2 separate regions of the Homo sapiens genome follow, and region 2 is linked to region 1. The links come from fine-mapping of genetic effects on gene expression. A gene starts in region 1. The other region holds a variant in brackets. All regions are shown on one strand. Distances are between the middles of the regions. Region 1 holds the start of KANK2 (KN motif and ankyrin repeat domains 2). Region 2 overlaps KANK2 (KN motif and ankyrin repeat domains 2).

Region 1 (4,316 bases):
CAAAGCATGGCGAAGGGGACCCCCAGTGACCCCAAAGCTGAGAGCTGGGTCAGGCCTGGACTGGGTCGGGGGGAAGGGGTAGGGAAAGTTGGGGAGGCAGCTAGGAGTGAAGCCTTTCCCCTTTATGGAAACAATTTTCTCTAAAAATAAACAGTTTCACTGCCGGGCTACACAGAACTTCCTGCCCGCCTAGGATGCGTCCGGGCCCAGGGGCGCAGTAGGGATAGAGGGCCGGGTGGAGGCCCAGGAAGTCCTGGGGGTGGAGGGGAGGAAGTAAGAGGGGGCGCCTGGAGGCTGCAAAAGGGAGGGACAGTCAGAGCCTCTCACTAAACCCCCCTCAGCCTTGGAGGCCGGCCAGGGCTCTTTTGTCCCCAATATAACCCATCTGAACTTGGCTGGTCCTTTCTGTTATCTGACCTCCAGCCATCATGCTGCAGAGGCCCCAGCCCATCCCACCATCAGAGTAAATCCTTTCTGGCCTTTGAGTGCTGGGGCCGGCAGGTACCTTGGGAGGATGGGCCAGGTAGGGCACCTGCTGGGCATGAAGGCAGGGCTGGGGCTCCAGGGGCACCTGAGCTTGTCCTTGTTCTCCCGTCCTGTCTTGCTTTGTCTCTCTCCAAGTCTCTCTGTGTCTCTCCACGTCTCTCTGTGTCTCTCCACGTCTCTGTCTCTCTGCGTCTCTCTCCACGTCTCTGTCCTTCTGCGTCTCTCTCCGTGTCTCTCTCCCTGTCTTTCCACGTCTCTGTCTTCGCTTCTCTGTCTTTCAACACCTGGAACACATGGTCACCAATTGCAGGAAATTCCGTTTTCCATTTGCCTGGAGGCTCACCCCTGAGCAACAGAAAGTTGATTGAAAATATTTTCTGGCCACCAAAGAGAGATGGAGAAGCAGGGAGCAAGCGGGATTGGAGCAGGATTGGAATAGCCGAGCGGGGTGGGCTGGGGGTGGGGGAAGTGAGGGTGCTGCTGGGTAAATAGTATAGTAACAGTAATACTAACATCAACTCTTTTTTTTTTTTTTTTCTGAGACGGAGTTTTGCTCTTGTCGCCCAGGCTGGAGTGCAATGGCGCGATCTCAGCTCACGGCAACCTCTGCCTCCCAGGTTCAAGCGATTCTCCTGCCTCAGCCTCCTGAGTAGCTGGGATTACAGGCACCTGCCACCACGCCTAGCTAATTCTGTATTTTTAGTAGAGATGGTGTTTCTCCATGTTGGTCAGGCTGGTCTCGAACTCCTGACCTCAGGTGATCCGCCCGCCTTGGCCTCCCAAAGTGCTGGGATTACAGGCATGAGCCACTGCACCCAGCCTAACATCAACTCTTTTAATTGTCATGACAATTCTATGAGATGGGCACTTATCGCCCCGTTTCACAGACAGGGGATGCAGAGGGTACAGAAAGGTACAGTGGCTTCCTCGGGGTCACTGGGGCCATGGGGAAGTGGCTGGGCCTGAACATGAACCTAAGCCTGGTGGATCCCCCCACTGCCCACCAAGCCACCACCCTCAGACTCCACATCAGATATCTCTACCCGTTTCCCAGATACGGAGACTGAGGTCTGAGGGTACTCAGTCATCTCACCGCCCTCGATGAGGACCAGCACGTCCCGAGTAAGGGGAAGAGAAAGGAGACGAGGGGGTGTGGTGGGGGAGATGGATGTCTGTGGCTGAGACCCTTCTCTCGCCATGGGACCCCTGGGGAATGGGGAAGGGGTGACAGGATAAGACAGAGATGGAGAGACTGGAGCCTATAAGAGGGGACAGGTAGGGAGCGCAGGGAAGGGGCGCGGGTCTCCCCAACCCACCACCCAAGACCGGCCTGCACATCGCGGAGGTCGGTGGTGGTGGTGGGGGGGGGTCTTCCCGCCCCAAACTCGGGGTGGGGGGAGGCGAGAAGGACCCCGCCCCGTGCAGAGAGGGGGCGGGGCCTGTGGGATCCCGGGCTAATGGCAAACAGCTGCCGCTCCCCACGCCGGCCCAGCCGCCAAGCCCAGGCCCAGCCCGGCCGGACGCCCGGCCGCCTTCCCGCCGTCTGGGGCATGGCCGCGGAGGAGGGCGAGGGGGGACAGTGCGGGGAGAGGGCAGAGCCGGGGAGGAACAGAGGCAGAAAGTGGGACAGAGACAGGGGAGAGCGGGCAGAGGGGAGCCAAGACAGGAGAAACGGGCAGGGCACGAGGAATCGATGGGGGGTACTGGGAGGAATCGATGGGGGTATGGGGTCAAAGACGAGGAGGGGGCAGGGACGCGGGGACAGACACTCCAAGTCTGGAAAGTTTGGGCACAGAAGGTGGAGTTGGAGGCAGCGGCTCGTTGAGACCAGCGAGGTCGTGTCCCAGGGTTGGAGGCGGGGGGTAGGGTAGTAGGTGTGTGTGGAGGGGGTGCACACTCGATCCCCGAACCAGACTTGAACCCCTACCCAGCCCCGGGTCCCACTCGCCTTGCGCGCTCCGGCCGCTGCCTTCCCTGGGTCCCGCCGCCCGAGCGTCTTCGCGCGCGCCGCAGCCTGGGCGCCCGGCCCTCGGAGGTGGCTCCGCCCGCACCACGCCCCCTCCGGCTGGTCCCGCCCCCCCAGCCGGCACCGCCCCCTCCAGCCGCCCGGGCGCCCCGGCCGCGGTGGGGGGTGGGGATGGAGAGACGCTGGTTGGAGACTGGATCTCACCTGGACAGCAGGTGTGTGTGCGCGCCGGGGTGTCCGGCCTCGTCCTTCCTTCCTCCCTAAGTCCCCGAGGCAGGGTCCTCCCACTGCCGGCCTCCCCCCCACCGCCTGCTGTCCCTGGGCCGCTGCGGGGGGCGGAACGGCTCGGCGGCGGGAGGGGGTGGAGCTGGCCGGGGCCCAGCTCGGGGAGGGCGCGCGGGGCGGGCGCGGCAGCGGGAGGTCACCCCTCCCCCAGGCGGCCCAGGGCTGGAAGCGGCCCAGCGCAGTCCTGGCACACGGTGGCGTGACCGCCGCGCGAGAAGGGAGGCTGCAGAGTCCTGGGCGCCGGCGCCAGCCAGACCTGCATTCCCATCCCAGACCCACCAAACTTTTGCTGCTCTGTGCCTCAGTTTATTCATCTGTAAAATGGAGATGATCATGTTAGCTACCTGATAGGAGCGTTGAGAAGATTCACTGACCATTAGGAAGGGGCCTAACCATCAGGAAGGAGGCCCTTCGGGTTAAAAACTCTCATAAATGGAGTGGCCTACTTTTGCAGAGATCTTTCTGGGAGCCCTTTTAGTACACAGCCAGCCACTCAGCAAGGGCTTAATAAATATTATTAAGCCGGCGAGGTGGCTCACACCTGTAATCTCAGTGCTTAGGGAGGCCAAGGCAAGAGGACTGCTTGAACTCAGGAGTTCGAGACCAGCCTGGGCAACATAGCAAGACCCTGTCTATGCAAAAAAATTTTTAAGTGAAAAAAAATTAGGCCAGGCGCAGTGGCTCATGCCTGTAATCGTAGCACTTTGGGAGGCCAAGGTGGGCGGATTATTTGAGCCAAGGAGTTGGAGACCAGCTTTGGCAATATGGTAAGACGCCATCTCTACAAAAAACAAAATACAAAAAACCACCTGGGGCCGAGAAATGGCTCATGCCTGTAATCCCAGCACTTTGGGAGTCCGAGGTGGGTGGATCATCTGAGGTCAGGAGTTCAAGACCAGCCTGGCCAACATGGTGAAACCCCTTCTCTACTAAAAATACAAAAACTATCCTGGCATGGTGGTGCACATCTGTAATCCCAGCTACTCGGGAGGCTGAGGTATGAGAATAACTTGAATCTGGGAGGTGGAGGTTGCCGTGAGCCGAGATTGCACCACTGCACTGCAGCCTGGGTGACAGAGTGAAACTCTGTCTAAAAAAAAAAAAAAGAAAAAGAAAAAAAAGCCAGGCACAGTGGCATGTGCCTATAATCTCTGCTACTCAGGAGGCTTGAGCCCCGGAGTTTGAGGCTGCAGTGAGCTATGACTGTGACACTGCATTCCAGCCTGGGGGACTGAGTGAGAGCGTCTGTTAAAAACAAACAAACAAAAACCAGGTATTGTTATTGCAGGTAAGCATGTGACATTATTTGTGTGTTGCCTTCCCTACTAGAACATCAGCTCCACAAGGGCAGGAATTTTTGCCTGTTGTCACCACGATGTCCCTGGCACCCAGTATGTTCTTGGTGTCCCCATTGATGATGCAGGGATGTGTGGATATGGGGCAGTGGACTGTGAGCATGTGATGAGCATGTGACCCAGCCCCTAGTGACCGCACCACATGGCACAGGTTGCTTATAAAAACCATTTTAAATTAAAAAAGGGAGGAAGCATCAGTGCACACAGATGGGGACACAGGGGCA
Region 2 (4,000 bases), 28 kb before region 1:
GTTGCCTAGGCTGGAGTGCAATGGCATGATCTCAGCTCACTGCAACCTCTGCCTCCTGGGTTCAAGTGATTCTCCTGCCTCAGCCTCCTTAGTAGCTGGGATTACAGGCAGGCGCCACCACGCCCGGCTAATTTTGCGTTTTTAGTAGAGATGGGGTTTCTCCATGTTGGTCAGTCTGGTCTCAAACTCCTGACCTCAGGTGATCCGCCCATCTTGGCCTCCCAAAGTGTTGAGATTACAGGCGTGAGCCACCGTGCCCGGCCTAGATTTTTTTTTGCTTAAAGACAGGGTCTTGCTCTGTTGCCAGGCTGGAGTATAGTGGTCCAATCATAGCTCACAGTAGCCTTGACTATCTGGGCTCAAGCAATCCTCCTGCCTTAGCCTCCCGAGTAGCTGGGACTATAGGCATGCACCACCAGGCCCAGCTAATTTTTTTTTTTTTTTGAGGCGGAATCTCACTCTGTCACCCAGGCTGGAGTGCAGTGGCGCGATCTCAGCTCACTGCAACCTCTGCCTCCCAGGTTCAAGCAATTCTCATGCCTCAGCCTCCCGAGTATCTGGGATTACAGGTGCCCACCACCACACCCAGCTAATTTTTGTATTTTTAGTAGAGACAGGGCTTCACCATGTTGGCCAGGCTGGTCTCGAACTCCTGACCTCAGGTGATCTGCCCGCCATGGCATCCCAAAGTGCTGGGATTACAGGCGTGAACCAGTGAGTCTGGCCTGAATGCTCCTTAAACACGTCAGACACACCCCTGCCTCAGGGCCTTTGCACTGCTTGTTCCTGCTGCCCGGAAGACCATGTGATTCACTCCCTAACTTCTCCAGGTGTTGACTCAAATGTCATCTCTTCTCTGAGGGACTCCAATAGCTTCCCCATCACTCGCCATCCCACGTCCTTGTTTTTTTTTTTTTTTTTTTTTCTTTGAGACAGAGTTTTGCTCTTGTTGCCCAATGTCATGATCTCTGGCTCACTGCAACCTCCACCTCCTGGGTTCAAGTGATTCTCCCGCCTAAGCCTCCAGAATAGCTGAGATTAAAGGCATGCGCCACCACACCCGGCTAATATTTTGTTTTTTTAGTACAGATGGAGTTTCACCATGTTGGCCAGCCTGGTCTTGAACCCCTTATCTCAAATCATCCGCCCACCTTGGCCTCCCAAAGTGCTGGGATTACAGGCATGAGCCACCACGCCTGGCCTCTTTCTTTTTTTTTTTCCCAGACAAGGCGGCACTCTGTCACCATGTAGTGATGCAACCATGGCTCACTGCAGCCTCAAATTCCTGGGTTCAGGTGATCCTCCTGCCTCAGCCTCCCGAGTAGCTGGGAGTACAGGCATGCACCTGTATTTTTGGGGGAGACAGGATCTCCCTATGTTGCCCAGGCTGGTCTCGAACTCTTGGGTTCAAGCAATCCTTCCATCTCGGCCCCACAAGGTGCTGGGATTACAGACGTGAGCCACCGCGCCCAGCCTGATTGTGTCTCTTACCAGAATGCTCACTCCATAAGGGTGGATACTGTTTTCTGTTTTGATCAGTGCTGTGACCACTGGGGACTACCTAGAACTGGGCCTAACATGCAGCAGGCGCTCAATAAATATTTTTCAAATGAGTGAATGGTGACTAAGACACGCATTTGGAACCAGACAGACCCAGGCGTGAATACTGTTATGCCAACCATGACCATGCAGCCTCTCTGTGACTAATTTCCTCACTGGGGCACTATGAAGGTTCAGCAAGCAGCTGACCATATTCTGACTTTATCCTTAGCGTGAACCCCATGCACAATCAGCTCTTCATAAACATCCGTCTCCTCTGGCCAGGCACAGTGGCTGACCCCTGTAATCCCAGCGCTTTCAGAGGCAGAAGAGGAAGCATGGCTTAAGCTCAGGTATTCAAGACCAGCCTGGGCAACATAGTGAGACCCAGTCTCTACAAAAGATGTTAAAAAATGTCCGGGTGCAGTGGCTCACGCCTGTAATCCCAGCACTTTGGGAGGCAGAGGCGGGCAGATCACTTGAGCTCAGGAGTTCAAGACCAGCCTGGCCAACACAGTGAAATCCCATCTCTACTAAAAATACAAAAATTAGCCGGGCATGGTGGTGTGCACCTGTAATCCCAGCTACTTTGGAGACTGAGGCAGGAGAATTGCTCGAACCTGGGAGATACAGGTTACAGTGAGCCAAGATTGTGCCACTGTACTCCAGCCTGGGTGATAGAACAAGACTTTGTCTCAAAAAACAAAACAAAAAAAACTCAGCCAGGTGTGGTGACGTGCGCCTGTAGTCCCAACTACTCAGGAGGCTGAGGTGAAAGGATCACTTGAGCCCAGGAAGTGGAGTTTGCAGTGAGCTTTAATTGTGCCACTGCACTCCAGCCTTGGTGACAGAGTAAGACCCAGTCT[G/C]AAAACAAAAACAAGACCAGGCATGGTGGCTCATACCTGTAATCCCAGCACTTTGGGAGGCTAAGGCAGGTGGATCACGAGGTCAGGAGTTTGAGACCAGCCTGACCATCATGGTGAAACCCCGTCTCTACTAAAAATACAAAAATTAGCCGGGTGTGGTGGTGCACACCTGTTATCCCAGCTACTCAGGAGGCTGAGGCAGCAGAATGGCTTGAAGCCGGGAGGCGGAGGTTGCAATGAGCCCAGATCGTGCCACCGCACTCCACCCTGGGCGACAGAGTGAGACTCTGCCTCAAAAACAAAAACAACAAATCTCTGTCCTTTCAGAGACCCACCCATCCCGTGCCTACCCGGCCGGATTGAGACTCACCGAGCACTTGATGTTCATGCGGGAATACAGCATGGACGCAATCTCACTCTGCCCTGCGTCCAAGGCCACCATCAGAGCTGTGCTCCCATCCTGCAAAGTATCCGGTGCTATGAATGACGTCCCCATGCTGTGCTCCCGCCCTCCCCGGGGTGCACCTGGTTGGAGACTCACGCGATCTGTGAGTGAGATGTCACAGCTGGGCACGGCCAGCAGCAGCCCCGCGATCTCCTTGTGGCCGTGCTCACAGGCGCACATGAGGGCCGTGGAGCCGTCATCATCTTGCACGTTGACATCTGCCTCACAGGCCAGCAGGGCTTTGACAACGTCCACCCGCCCGTGGCTGACGGCCAGCATCAGGGCCGTCTGTCCTGCCTGGGGAGGGCAAGGAACAGGATTATGGTTCATGCAGGCCCCAGGGCAGGACACCCCCTGGTCTAGAACCTGCTGTAGCTCCCACATACTCTGATGGTGAAATGTACCCTCAACTTGCTGATCTCCTCCTGAATCTCAAACAACCCTCCCGTCACCAGGGGAGTAATAAATCCACAGAGACAGAAAGCGGATGAGTGGTTGCCAGAGGCTGGGAGAAGCGGGGGCGGAGGAAATGATGGATACAGGTTTCCTTTGGGGGTGAAGAGAACGTTCTGGAACTAGACGGAGGTGTTGGTTGCACAACAGGGTGAATGTATTTCATGCCAGTAGTGCTTTTGGTTTTGTTTTGCTTTATTTTAGAGACAGGGTCTTGCTCTGTTGCCCAGGTTGGCGTGCAGTGGCACGATCGCAGCTCACTGCAGCCTCAACCTCCCCAGGCTCAGGTGATCCTCCCACCTCAGCCTCCCGAGTAGCTGAGACTACAGGCATGCGCCACAATGCCTGGCTAATTTTTGTATCTTTTGTATAGATAGGGTTTTGCCATGTTGCCCAGGCTAATTGTTCCTTTAAAAGGGTTAATTATTTTTTTTTGGAGATGGCGTCTCGCTCTGTCACCAGGCTGGAGTGCAGTGGCGCAATCTCGGCTCACTGCAACCTCCACCTCCTGGGTCCAAGCAACTCTCCTGCCTCAGCCTCCTGAGTAGCTGAGATTACAGGCGTGTGCCACTACGCCCAGCTAATTTTTGTATTTTTAGTAGAGACAGAGTTTCACCATGTTGGCCAGGATGGTCTCAATCTCTTCACCTCGTGATCCGCCCGCCTAGGTTTACAGGCGTGAGCCATCGTGCCCAGC

What was found. PIP is the estimated chance that this variant, and not a neighbour inherited with it, causes the effect. A credible set is the group of variants that fine-mapping cannot tell apart.
Region 2: its variant is the best candidate, but not a certain one, in a credible set for the expression of KANK2 in gastroesophageal junction (GTEx, PIP 0.87).

Annotation. Positions count from the first base shown.
Region 1 is chr19:11,195,051-11,199,366 of GRCh38, forward strand. It overlaps KANK2 (KN motif and ankyrin repeat domains 2), which reads right to left and starts at 2,495. Exons shown (of 13, transcript NM_001136191.3): 1 at 2,435-2,495; 2 at 572-770. DOCK6 (dedicator of cytokinesis 6) reads right to left here. Exons shown (of 48, transcript NM_020812.4): 48 at 4,245-4,316. RefSeq lists a silencer at 2,359-2,978.
Region 2 is chr19:11,167,102-11,171,101 of GRCh38, forward strand. It overlaps KANK2 (KN motif and ankyrin repeat domains 2), which reads right to left. Exons shown (of 13, transcript NM_001136191.3): 11 at 2,947-3,147; 12 at 2,776-2,865. Among named protein-coding and RNA genes, the nearest start is that of SPC24, 13 kb to the left of the region's middle. The variant G/C (reference allele first, on the strand shown) is at 2,406.